Regions from separate parts of the Homo sapiens genome. Here region 1 is linked to region 2. Evidence: fine-mapped expression QTL. A gene starts in region 2. The other region holds a variant in brackets. All regions are shown on one strand. Distances are between the middles of the regions.

The links. PIP is the estimated chance that this variant, and not a neighbour inherited with it, causes the effect.
Region 1: its variant is fine-mapped to the expression of ABCC3 in whole blood (TOPMed, PIP above 0.99). The same link has a PIP of 0.9 or more in blood mononuclear cells and monocytes.

What each region holds. Positions count from the first base shown.
Region 1 is chr17:50,678,101-50,680,940 of GRCh38, forward strand. It overlaps ABCC3 (ATP binding cassette subfamily C member 3), which reads left to right. Exons shown (of 31, transcript NM_003786.4): 25 at 1-119; 26 at 1,698-1,799. Among named protein-coding and RNA genes, the nearest start is that of ANKRD40, 28 kb to the right of the region's middle. The variant C/T (reference allele first, on the strand shown) is at 1,476.
Region 2 is chr17:50,633,748-50,636,650 of GRCh38, forward strand. It overlaps ABCC3 (ATP binding cassette subfamily C member 3), which reads left to right and starts at 1,134. Exons shown (of 31, transcript NM_003786.4): 1 at 1,134-1,234. The coding sequence starts at 1,190. RefSeq lists a silencer at 1,104-1,153.

The DNA of each region.
Region 1 (2,840 bases), 44 kb after region 2:
GCATCGGAGTGGAGTTCGTGGGGAACTGCGTGGTGCTCTTTGCTGCACTATTTGCCGTCATCGGGAGGAGCAGCCTGAACCCGGGGCTGGTGGGCCTTTCTGTGTCCTACTCCTTGCAGGTATGAAGGGCCTGGACCCCAGGGCAGGGCCACCACTGGGACAGAAACCACACAGGTGTTCCAGGCATCTCCCGAGTGCCCCTCCCTGCTCAGTATGGGCACCAGCCACAGGGTCTGTTCTCAAGGACTGTGAGAAAAAAAAAAAAAGAAAAAAATCATTGAGTTGACAAGTTTATAACCACACACCATGGCTGGATGTTCCTACTTTCCTTCCCCAAGAAGCCCATGTTCTCACATTCAGAAAGAATTCTGTTGAATAATCTCTGTCCTCAAACCCCACATCTCTCTCCTGCTCAGCCGTCGACCTTGCCTGACACCTCACAGTTCAACTGGAGAGACCCCCATCAGCAGGAGATTGTGCTGCAGGCTGAGCAGGTCTTTGTGGCTGGAGAAACAAAATGTTTTAAAAGCCCAGAAGAGGGACTGGGTGCAGTGGCTCACACCTAATCCCAGCACTTTGGGAGGCGGAGGTGGGCGGATCACCTGAGGCCAGGAGCTCCAGAACAGCCTGGCCAACATGGTGAAACCCTATCTCTACTTAAATACAAAAATTAGCCAGCCGTGGTGGCGGGCATCTGTAATCCCAGCTACTCAGGAGGCTGAGGCAGGAGAATAGCTTGAACCTGGGAGGCAGAGGTTGCAGTGAGCCAAGATCACGCCACTGCACTCCAGCCTGGGTGACAGAGCGAGACTCCATCTCAAGAGAGAAAAAAAAAAAGTCCAGAGGAGTTTTCTTGCTTTGGGGTGTTGTAGAAATGATCTTGGAGCTTAGCCCCAAAGGACAAACAGAATTTCTCTTGTCTCTGGGCAAGTTGTAGGCTCATGTGACAGGTCAGGACAGTGTAGGGCTGGCATACCGCTCGCTCACGTTCACATGCTTGCAGAGAACGTACACAGACGAGGTGACTGAAGCCTGGTCTGCAGGTCAGGCAGGTCATCCTGATGCCAGCTTGTACTGTCAAAGAGTCACCTAACTGCAAACGGAATTTTTGTAAAGCAGATCACATTGTTAATACCTCAGGTGGCTCAAACCTTGAACGCGTTGGCAAACAAAAAACAATCCAGAAAGGTCAATTTTCACAAAGGTCAGTGTGCACATGAATCTACTTGTTAAAATGTACATTTTGATTCAGTAGACCTAGGATGGGGCTCAGGACTCTGCACTTTGATCAAGACTCCTTGGTACGCAAAGTGTGGCCCATGGGCCAGTTGCATCACCATCCTCTGGGAGCTTGTTAGAAATGAAGAATCTCAGGTTCCAAGTCCCACCTCAGACTACAGAATCCGGCGTTGCATTTTAACAAGATTCTCTGGGAAGTCTTATACATATTAAAGTTGGAGAAACAGAAACCAAGG[C/T]GAGGTGGTCCTTGGTTAAGTCTGCACTGTCACTGCCCAAGGGAGTCATTCGTGATTACAGCCCCAGCTGGCATGCCTGTGGGCTTGATCCAGGCCCACCTGGGTCATCCATGGGCTAGGATCCCATGGATGGGCACATGATCCAGGAGTCTGAACTCCTCCCAAAGCCATTACGGTGGGGAGGGGAGATCGCCATACGTATAACCCAGTCCCTTTGGCCAGGTGACATTTGCTCTGAACTGGATGATACGAATGATGTCAGATTTGGAATCTAACATCGTGGCTGTGGAGAGGGTCAAGGAGTACTCCAAGACAGAGACAGAGGTGGGTACTGGCATGAGCCCGGGACAGGGGGAATCTGAAGTAGCTGGGGAAGAAAGCTTGGTGGCTCTCTCTCCCTCAACATCAGGGCCTGCCACGTATGGGGCTCTTCATTCATTTACCCATTCACTCCTTACTGAGCATCAACCAATGCTCTATGCTAGGAGGTGTAGAGAGATCAGAGTTGAGCAAGACGGTGTTTGCCCTTAGGTGATTCTGATTTGGTGGGAGGGGTAAGACCTATTGCAGGGCTTTGCAGTGGATGACCAGATCTCTGGCGTGGTGCACCTGGAGAGGGCAGATGAGGGAGATCCTTCAGCTGGGGTGACCAGGGGAGACGAGCTTAGATGAGAAGGATGGACAGGCTTTGATAGACTAAGTAAGATGGTGGGGTGGGCAGTGGGAAGGTGAGCATTCCAGCCAAAGAGACCAGCCTGGGCAAAGGAGTGGAGGTGGGGCAGCATGCCCTTTGTTGGGGAAAAGGAGTTGTTCCCTACTGGGGGTTCCAGACTTTTCTCCACCGCCCCCTCTCATGGTCACACCTTAGCCCTCTTCATGCCCAGAAGCTGCAGCATCAGTGTCAAGCATCCCATCTTTGGCCCACGCTCCTATCCTGCTCGCTCTCATGCTCCAAGTCCCCCACTGTCACAGCAGTCTGCCTTCACTGGGACTCCCAATCCCATGACCCCCCTTTGTGTCTCTGTCCATCAGCTTCTCTGCCTTCACCTCCCTCCCCGGCCAGCCTAGAGTCTATGCTCCACCAACACAAACGCTCTCACCTGCCTTGCCCTTCTCTTTCTTCTCTCTCAGTTGTACTCACCTCCAAAACCCACCCCAGCTGAGCCCACCAATCTGCCTTCTTCATGCCTGCACTGAGCACTTAAAACCTTGCAGGAGGCGGGGCACAGTGACTCATGCCTGTAATCCCAGCACTTTGGGAGGCCAAGGTGGGTGGATCTCTTGAGGTCGGGAGTTCAAAACCAGCCTGGCCAACATGGTGAAACCCCATCTCTACTAAAAATACAAAAAAATAGCTGGGCGTGG
Region 2 (2,903 bases):
AGAGAAGGGCCAGGGAAAGATTTGCCAGGGAGAATTCCTTCTGAGCCCCAACAAGCGGTGCTGAGTTGGCGTCTGGGATTGTGTTAAGGAAGACAGGGCAACAGCGGGATTGAGAGATGGAGGGATCCCCGCATCTGAGGGGATACCGGGAGAAGGAGAGCTGAGGCAAGCAGGAGAAGGAGAGCACTGACAAGCCCATTTTACAGATCAGGAATGTAGAGTTTCAGCCTTAGGAGGAGGACGAGGACGAGGACACTCACGTGGGGCTCCTCCTGGGGCTTCACCTGTCCTTCCCCCCCCAACCCTGATCAGGCTGAAGCAGAGGGAATTCACACATGTTGGGTGCCCACTAAGTGTGCCAGGAAATACGCTTTGCCTACCCTTTCCATTCAATCCTCAGAGAACCCTGGGAGGAAGATTCTCTTCTATGATTGTCTCTATTTTACGGATGTGAAAGTAGAGGCCCAGAGACGTGCCGAGGTGATGTGGCAAGGTCAGGGAGCCACAGAGCCTAAGAGGGCAGCAGTTTAAGAGGACATAAGAGGCCCCCGCTGGACGATGCTGCGGCCCCCACCCCCGCCTCACGGGTACACACCCGCGGAGCACACCCCGTGTGCTCCCCGTGTGGCGCCTGCCAGTGGTCTCTGGAACCTGATGGGGAAGAGGTCAGCTTCCTGATTGAGCACAGAAGCCCTTCCCATTTTACAGATGAGGAAACTGACCTCCGGAGAGGAACGTGACCTTCTCAAAGATTCCTTTTTTACTAGGAAAGATTGTTAAATCCCTCTCCCTACGTCCCCTACTCAATGACTCATCGGCCCCACGGACTTGTTCGGGAGTGGGAGCGCCTGTGTATCCCAGTTCCCCCTTGGAAATAGACTCGACTCCTGGACTGTTAGCCTCGGTATTTAGAGAGACATCCCCCTGGCTTGGCCCAGGGGCCGCTCGCAGGGGCTGTCGCCGTGCCAAGGGCCCCCCCACCTCTGCCCCAAAGTCCCTCCCAGGGAGGCGCTGTCGCAACCCGCGGGACGGGGGCAGGGAGACCGGACCCAGAGGCACTGGGGTAGGGCTCGGCAGGGCGGGTCCGGGCGGAGCGCGGGGTGCGGAGGGCGGAGGCGGCTCCGGCGCCCGCTCTGCCCGCCGCTGGGTCCGACCGCGCTCGCCTTCCTTGCAGCCGCGCCTCGGCCCCATGGACGCCCTGTGCGGTTCCGGGGAGCTCGGCTCCAAGTTCTGGGTAAGGCGCGGGGCTCCGGGGTCACTGCGCGGGGGCCAGGGTCGGCCGGCTTCGCCCGGTCCCCGCCGCCTGCCTTCCCGCGGGGCCGGCAGGTATCCCGGGACGGAGCCCCTGAGACGGCCTGGGCGCCCGGGAGGGGGCGATGGGCTCGGGAGGGAGGTTGGCTGCGCCGCCCGGAGCCGGGTCCCACGCGGTGTCGGGGACCTGCCCTGCTCTGCCCTTCCCGGCTGCAGCACTGGGGAGCCCGGGAAAGTGAGGAAGAGTGCGCGGCTGGGGCGCAAAGGCACAGTGCGTGGCTGGGTGAGTCGGCTCCATCCCAGCCCCTCCGTCGGGTGCGGAAGGGGCGTTTCGCAATCAGCCGCGGGTTCCTGATGGAGGGTCTTCCCTCAGCATCTGCCTCAGGTTAGGACTCGGTTGCCCACCTGGGCATGGATTGCCCCCAGGGCATCCAGAGCACCTGCTCAACCAGGTGTTTTGGGAGGCCGGCTGTGCAGTGTCCCACCCTTCTTAGGAAGGTTTCCTGCCACCTTCTTTTCTCTAGGTAAGACTGAGGTCTGAGAGCAGGCCATCCCCACCACTCCGGACTCAGAAGGGAGAAGCAGACCCCAGTCTGGAGACAGGTGCAGGGTGTCAGGATTCCTGTAGTCCAACTCCCTTCTCACAGATGGAGAAAGGGAGGCCCAGAGAGAGGAAGGGACTTGCCCAAAGTTACCCAGTTCAATGAAGGCAGAGCTGGGATAGAAAAACAGGCTACAGGCCAGGTGCAGTGGTTCACGCCTGTAATCCCACCCTTTGGGAGGCAGAGGTGGGAGGATCACTTCAGCCCAGGAGTTTTAGATTACTGTGAGCTATGATCGCACCACTGCACTGTGGCCTGGGCGAAAGAGTGAGACCCTGTCTCTAAAAAAATAAATAAATAAGAAAAGAAAATCAAGCCTTTGGTGACTCTCACTCCAAATCTCTTTCTAAGACAGGCTGCTCTTCAGCCTGCTGACTCCAGCCTCCAGCACAGTTCAGGTGAGCTAAGTGCATACAGCCTAGGAGCTTTCTTACCAACTTGCAAAACTTACTTGCCTCTATGAGGCAAGTGATCATGTGGTCTCCGTTTTACAGAGGGAGCTCAGATTAAAGGTGCTTCTCTGTGGTCATTAAAGGGGTGTCCAGGGCTTGTGAATCCCAATCTCTAAGTCTTTTCCTATTTTGAGTATTTGTACATATATGCCCTTTGTGTGTGTACGCACACACGCAGGCACGTGGGGTGTTACCCAAGAGTTCGTGCTGTGCACGTGTGTGCACAGGTGTATAAGTCTGGAGCTATGCTCTTGGGCTGTGTTTAGAATGGGCTGAAGGCGTTATATGGATTTTTTGAAACTTGGGGCAATGGAGGTAAAAAAAAAAACTGTAAAAAGGCATATTTGGGATTCTCTCTTTTTCTGTGGGTGACCCAAAGGTTAATCCGAGATGGTGCAACTTCTCTGCCACTGCCCTTCTTTCCCAGTCCCACAGGAACTTCATGTATTATTCAGCATGGACAGGCCACTTGCCACCAGGGTCCAGAGGTTGTGCCTTTGCCTCATGAGCACACTTCCTTTCACTGCCCTTTGGGCCAGGCTGGTATGACCGTGGCAGGTTTGTGGTGCCTGGGATGCCAAACAGAAAATCAAGAGGG